Linked DNA regions of Homo sapiens. The protein of the gene in region 2 purifies or fractionates together with the protein of the main gene of each other region. This does not show direct contact. Each region holds a gene or a part of one and is shown on either strand. Other genes may lie near its edges.

Region 1 (3,756 bases), on a different chromosome or scaffold from region 2:
GTATATATGTGTGTATATATACACCTCACACAATTCCTTATCCATTCATTCATCTGTCAATGGACACTAAGCTTGTTTCTGTAACTTGGCTATTGTGAATGCTGCTGCAATGAACATAAAAACGCAGATCTCTTTATGTGGTACTGATTTCATTTCCTTTGGATATATACCCAGAAGAGGGATTGCTGGACCATATGGTAGTTTTATTTTTAATTTGAGTAACTTCTCTACTGTTTTCTATAATGGCTGTACCAATTTACATTCCAGCCAACAGTGTGCAAGGGTTCCCTTTTCTTCACACCTTCGCCAACACTTGTTATCTCTTGCCTTTTTGATAATGACAATTCTAATAGGTGTGAAGTGATATTTCATAGTGGTTTGTAATTTGCATTTCCTTGATGATTGGTGATGTTAAGCACCTTTTCATCTACTTATTGGCCATTTTGATGCCTTCTTTGGAAAGAAAGCCATTTGGTCTCTTGACTAATTTTTAATCAGTTATTTGGTTTTTTGCTATCGAGTTGGTGAGATCCTTATACATTTTAAATATATAGGACTTATGCGAATATTATTTCCCATTCTGCAGACTGTCTCTTCACTCTGTTGATTATCTCCCTTGCTATGCAGGAGCTTTCTAATATAGTCTCATTTGTTTATTTTTGCTTTTGTTGTTTGAGCTTTTGGTGTAATTTCCAAAAACTCATTGCCTAGACTAATGTCAAGTAGCTTTTCTCTTATGTTTTCCACTAGAAATTTTATGGTTTCAGGTATCGTGTTTAAGTCTTTAATCCATTTTAGTTGACTTTGGTATATTTGCTAAGATAAGCGTTCAATTTCATTCTTTTGCACGCAGATAGCCAATTTTCCCAAAGGCATTTAAAAAAAAACTTTCAGGTTCAGGGTTCATGTGCAAGTTTGTTGCATAGATAAATTGCGTGTTGTAGGGGTTTGATGTACAGATTATTTCCCCATGCAGGTAATAGGCATAGTACCTGATAGGTAGTTTTTCAATCCTCTCTCTGCTCCCACCGTCTACCACCAGGTAGGCCCTAGTGTTTGTGCCTACTTTGTGTCCCTTGTGTCCATATGTACTCAATGTTTAGCTCCCACTTATAAGTGAGAACATGTGGTATTTGGTTTTCTGTTCCTGTGTTAGTTCGCTTAGGTTATTGGCCTCCAGCTCCATATAAGTTGCTGCAAAGGACATAATCTCGTTATTTTTTATGCCTGTGTAGTATTCTACAGTGTGTATGTATCACAGTTTCTTTATCCAATCCAACATTGATGTGCATTTAGGTTGATTCCATGTCTTTGCTATTGCTAACACCATTAATTGAAGAGAGTGTCCTTTCTTAGATTTTGCCCAACTGAAATATAGACTGAATCAAGATCTGCATGGACATAAAGGTCTATTATTACAAAGTCCCATGAATGAATGCTTTTGGAACTTTCTAAGGGGGCAAAGCTTTGCTTCTTCCAAAAAATGATATAAGTAAACTTCTATGAAAATAAGAATTGGAACCACAGCTTCCTTTTGGCTTTGCTAAGCAGAAAACTTCAATAAATTGGTAAGTCATTTATAATGACCATTTCTGGTCAGGAGTTTTCATCCCTTTAAAAAAATATATCTTACCTGATCCTGTATTTTACAATTGTAGATGGGTTAGGTTTATGGCATCTTGAGATTTTTGTAGTATGTGGCTATGTATATCCGAGAAAAACTAAAAACTCTACTATGAAAATATTTTAAAGATAAACCGAAAACTATTAGGAAAAAGAAGACAGCAAACATACAGAAATCAAGACTGAGTTTTATTGCAACTGAGAATCAATATTCACTTTTTTATCTTTTGGGTATCCGAAGGCAAAATAGGAATATATGTAATATAAGCTGCTCTGTGACATCACATTCCAAGGAAGAAAGACCAAAGTCTTATTAGCACCCATAATTGAACTCAAATACTTGGCCAAAGTTTTGCCAACCAATAAAATTTTTCTTTGCGTGCTGAGGGATTTTTTTTGAGTGAGGGTGGTTAGAAAATTATGAATTTGCATTCATATGTTTCTTAGCTCCTAAAGACGCATTGTTGGATTTTAGTTTTGCTGCAGATATCCTCTGACATGCTCTGTTGACATTCACCCCAATTCTGCTCACTTCTGTTATGTCCTAGCTCTGTACTTGCTGATGCTACCTATAGCATAGAGTTACCATGAGAAAAATGTTTCAAACTCAAGACACGAATCTCTTGCTGCTTGAAGGAAAACATGTAAATTAGAAAAAGAGATAGTGAGTGCGAATGAAAGATTTGCTTACACTGATTATTCTTCCCAATTACTCCTGGAAGCTAAAGGTAAAAAAGGAAACCTAAAGTCTTTCTTTTTAATCAGACTTCCAATATAATTTCACAATTTAAATGTCCTATATTTGCTGGGTACTAGTCTCACCTATACCAAATTGAAAGTAAATTTGATGCAAAAGTGGGTAGTTAAAGAGCTAGATTTCAGAGTTATTCAAATTGTAGAATTTTTATAGCACAAAGTGCATTTATGAAAAATAATGCTATTGCAATTGGGTAAAGAAAGAAATTGAGTAGTTAAAAAGAACATAATTACTTAGAAGATCTCCCTCTCCTCTGAACATCTAAACTTGAACATAAATTTAAAACACTAAAAGGTATTCACTTACTTATCTTTATCTAATTCGTATCAAAATCATGCCTTACCTTGATAACACGGAGCTATTCTTTTACTCAGTTCTGTTCGTAAATCAGGGGGCACTCCATAGCAACCACCAGTGGGGAGCTTATTTTCATTCTTTATGTAAAATATATTTTTCCATCTATGCCCACAAGTCTGAATAAAATAAAAGTAGACCAAATGATGTGAAAGCTGCACCCAGGATAGCTGATTTCACGATGGATCTGTGGACCAGTTCCAATACCTACCACGATGGATCCATTTTCTCCTGGCTGTCTGGAAAGTGTGACCCCCAACCACTGATTGTCTCTCTCTTCCAAACAAGTCTTTCCACAAGGTTCTCCATTAGGGCTACCTATAGCATGTGAAAATAATTTTATCAGTTGTATTGAAAACATTCTACAAAAGAAGAGAAAACTGTGCACTCATCCCCAGTATTTTTCTGTTAACTACTTCTCTATCTTATATTCAGTGCACAATGTGAGGATAAATGTGAATTACTCTGTGCCAACTAATTATTCTCTAATACAAGGTGACTTTGGTTGTAGAAATGACCTCTGACTGGTAGCACCATAAAAAGATAGACTCAATCATATAAGAGATAGCTAACAGGACTAGGAGTGGGGAAAACCACTTAAAGCTAATACCAGGTTGTGCAACTATAACTGCTGTGTCTAACGTTTGGAAAAGAATTAGCCATTTATCTAACAACGTAAGCAATATTATCAGAGCACTTTTAAAAATGTTTCTTCTACTGAGATATTAAGAATAGAAAGACTATAATACATCCTCAGCAATTAAGGTACAATTTATTGGAGCTGGAAGGTGATGATTAAGCATGCAGAAAGTGGAACATACAATTAGCATACCAATAATGCCTTGCGTTTATAAGAAACTGCCCTATGTTTACATTTATTGGAATATGACTCATGTTTTCAACAGAGATAAAAGTGATTTGGAAACCAGATTATCTCAGTAGTAAACAAAAAACTTCAATAGATACTTTGGCAAATGCATGAATAGCCAAACATAAATAAAATGCTCATGTACTAGATAGTA
Region 2 (3,756 bases):
AGACAAAGGAGCTGGAAATTCTTTCCTATGTGAAGAAACATGGTATTTTTCATTTTTCCAGCAATAATTTCTGTCCCTCATATTCTGTAAGAAATGTTCCTCTAATCCACACAGTTCGATGTCAGGTAACATAAGAACTTGCTACTTTTCCCTGTATTTACATAAGGGAAGCTTTCAAGGAGCTCGGGAGGCTGCACAGACATAAACTATGCACATACAACCAGCATAATTGAAAGCAGCCGGCCAAGCACAGTTTCTTGGGAAGCTTGAGCAACACATGCGGTTTGTTGCAGAATCAATTAAGGTTACTGGGAAAAGTTGAGCTCCGGTACAATAAAACGAAACCAAAGTAATTATAATCAAATGAGGTCTTCATGAAGACATGACCGTAAATGGGTTCAGTTTTTTAGAAAGAGAGGCCATCAGTAACAAAAGGCAAATGATTTATGTCTGGTTAGTTTTTTACTCCTCTTGCTAACTTTGTTTGCTGAATGGAGAATGGAGTGGGATGCATTTTGTCAGGCTGGTAAACTAGGGACATCCACTCACTTTCATGAGGCAAATCTAGTTCATTATATAAATATCTTTGAAGTTGAGCGGTTGAGCACCAAGGCTTCATGGCACCAAAAAAACCAAAAAAAAATCCTAAATGTGTCAACACCAAAGTCAAATGATTGAAATGTTTCCAGATATTAACAATTATGTCTAAGAAGAACACTTTTATACTAATACATATTACTAATTATAGATCTACTTAATGTTTAAACTAATTTTAAGCATCAAATTGCATAAGAATAAATGAATAGAAAATCCCTGAAGGATGGAATTCATAAATCAATCAGACACATAAGCAAGTAAACATGTAAGGATGTAATCAAATGGAAATATTTTTTAATAAAACAAAAAGAAACTTAGAAATGATCATTTTACAGCTAAGGAAACCAGAGCCCAGAGAGGTTGAGTCTTATACATGGTCACTGTGTTTGTGGCAGAGGTAGAAATAGAAGCCAAGATTTGGATTCCTGCTCTCTCTCATGTTGGCCTTAGCTGTCCCTAGCTTTCCTGATGTTGTATGTTCTTTAGCCAAGAATCTGTACATGAATATCCATTTTAAAACTTTTTTTAAAATATCATTTTTAAAAAGTGATTTTAAAGTAAAATTGAGAGAAAAACAAAGATTTTCTAAAGCACTCACAGTAGATCTCCACCTGGATTCCTTTTTCCAATTTCCTAGATTCACAAGTTGCTGTGCACAGGTAAGAGTGTTCGTTCCCAAAACTAACAGGATTCATTGTCAGCGTAGATGTGGTCCCCTCATTCGTCACCTTCCCATTCAGTGGACTATCTATCTGGGTTCTCCAAGAGAAAAATGGGGACTCACAGCCTGTGGTGCTGCAAGTCAATGAGACGGAGTCACCAATCTGAGCAAGATATCTAGATTCTGGGGTGGTCTCGATTTTAAAAGCTTGAGCTGCAAAAGCAAAAAAAGACAGAAGCAAATTTACCACTAGTTTGTCTAGTATTCTCCTCCTTCTTCTCTGTATAATGTCTAAAATATGATCAGACTGATCTCTTTCCTAAGCTGCTTCAAACTAACTGCAAGGTAGCCAAAAAGCACCGAAGTCACTGCCAAAAAAGTTTATGGAATCATCTTCAGTAGAGAGAATTCTCAGTTCCAACCTTGATGCCCATTTATCAAAGCTGTTTTGTTATTTGCTAAGTTTGACCTCATTGTCAAGTATAGGAAACTAAAGAGACAGACCGACTAGAGACAGAATCCAAATTACTCAATTGCCTTTGGAAAAAAAGATACCAAAAACATCAATTTTCAGCTCTAACTATGACAGTACAATGGTATATAGCAAAACTCAATTGCATATTAAAAGTTAGACTAAATTAACTTTTCCTACTGTTTAAAATCCTAGTGTCTTTACTTCACTACTATCGCAAAACTGACTGAAGCCAAAACCAGGGCTAAAATTGAATGCTAACATTTGAAACAGATGAAGGGAAATAACTTACAAGCTGCAAACATTATCCAAAGTATATTTGAGGCTCCAAGGATCACGACCATCTTCCCAGGCATTTTAAGTTGCTGTCGTGATGAGAAAATAGTGGTTCCAAAACCCTTATTTGTGTCCCACCTGTGTGTGCCTGGGAGGGTATTCAGCTCCTGAAGCCAGTGAGGCCCGATGCAGATACCGCGGAGTGAAATAGAAAGTCTGTGCTTTATAAAGGGTCTTGTTGCAGAGGCGGAGGGAAATCCCTTCAAGGGGAAACCCAGGGCAGAGCCAGGGAAAAAAGTTTAACAGACACCCAGCCAAGTTCCACTATTAACCCCTTCAGTTGCTCTCACTGCTGAAGCTCCTCTCTCTGTCCTGGCAAAAGAAGACACTTCCAAGACTATAAAATACAGGCTTTTCCTCATCTTCGACTCCAAAAGGCTATCTTTACTGGAAAGATAAAGGACAATGCTGATTGCAGAATGAAGCTTTCTGAATCCAATGTGGGTTAAGGGGGTGGGGAGAGAAAAAATGGAGACAGAGTAGTAAATTCTACTCTGGTTTTTGAACTGGATAAATAACGACTATGCCATGTGAATTGATTTTCTCCATCAAGGAAATATGTTTGCAATTCTAAAAGAGATTAATTTTTTTCTCTTACAAGAGAAAGGAAAAAGTTATTTCTTTTGATGAGTCATTTTTTAAAAAAGGGACACCATAACTTCTTAGTTTTATATTTATTCATAAAAATAGTTCTTTTAGCAACAAACATCAACTTTTTGAAACTATTTTCTTGAGTAGAAAGTAAAGGACTGTAACTGAAATTGCTGCCAAAACAAGGGAAACAATTTTTTTTTGTTTTAGAAAAGTTACCAATAATTTGGTTAAATTGCTGGATAATTGGAATTTTTTTGCATACTTAAATGCAAGTGTATGGAATCCATCTGAAGTGGCAAATCTCTTGGGCTGTGAGATTTAACCGCAAACCCAGTTAAAAAATTAAAAATAATAGGTTTTTATTATAGGCAAGGGGACAATAACCAACTCTATGTTCCTTTTCCCCCCAGTGAAGTGCCTTTTTAAAAAAATCCCAATTAACTAACTGGCTTAGCCTTGCACACACATAGCCCAAGGCCTTGCAAAATGCTTGCCCATCAAAAAGAAACCGGAATAGCCACTTCCTTTTATTAAACACGTGCAGGTCTATCTCCCCCATTGGATCATCAGTTCCTCTCATGGTCAGGACCAGTTCTTGTTCATTGTTGTATCTACTTCTACAATATCTAATGCATGATTTTCCACTTAGTGGATACAAAAAATGCAATAATAAACGTTATACATTTGGAGAAGAAAATTCTAAATACTAGCAATAATATGTAAATACGGCATGAAAAAACTGTTAAATTCTACAAGAAAATTCTAAAGCTCAGAGACTCAATGGGATGTGTACAATAAACTTGTACTATATAACATTTGTACTCTGTAACAAAGGCCATAGCTGAGGTCTGGAATCTATAACTGTCCCTACCTGGTTGGAGAGGCTTCTGGATCTCCTCTTGGATACTGATGTGGCTCCCACTAAAAGACAAGGAGGGAAAAATAAGTTGGAGATGCTGTTCTAGGGTGTGGGGATATATAGGTATGACTTCACCTACCAAATATCTAGGGATCAGAAAAATTGATTCAGGAAATACTAGCTTATAAACAAGTAACCCAGAGGTCCTTTACAGTGTTTGTGTCATCATCATGTAAA

The links. Proteins that work in one complex are often made in the same cells at the same time.
Region 1: the proteins of VCAM1 (region 2) and ITGA4 purify together in Homo sapiens (affinity purification with mass spectrometry; 2 studies listed by BioGRID). This does not show direct contact.

Annotation. Positions count from the first base shown.
Region 1 is NC_000002.12:181,474,256-181,478,011, reverse strand, and holds part of ITGA4 (integrin alpha-4 isoform 1 preproprotein), read right to left. Parts: intron 3,053-3,756; coding exon 2,946-3,052; intron 2,854-2,945; coding exon 2,724-2,853; intron 2,193-2,723; coding exon of another isoform or gene 2,161-2,192; exon of another isoform or gene 1,792-2,160; intron 1-1,791. UniProt on the Homo sapiens protein: Integrins alpha-4/beta-1 (VLA-4) and alpha-4/beta-7 are receptors for fibronectin. They recognize one or more domains within the alternatively spliced CS-1 and CS-5 regions of fibronectin. They are also receptors for VCAM1.
Region 2 is NC_000001.11:100,718,191-100,721,946, reverse strand, and holds the start of VCAM1 (vascular cell adhesion protein 1 isoform a precursor), read right to left. Parts: upstream 2,206-3,756; 5' UTR 2,087-2,205; coding exon 2,023-2,086; intron 1,472-2,022; coding exon 1,196-1,471; intron 1-1,195. UniProt on the Homo sapiens protein: Cell adhesion glycoprotein predominantly expressed on the surface of endothelial cells that plays an important role in immune surveillance and inflammation.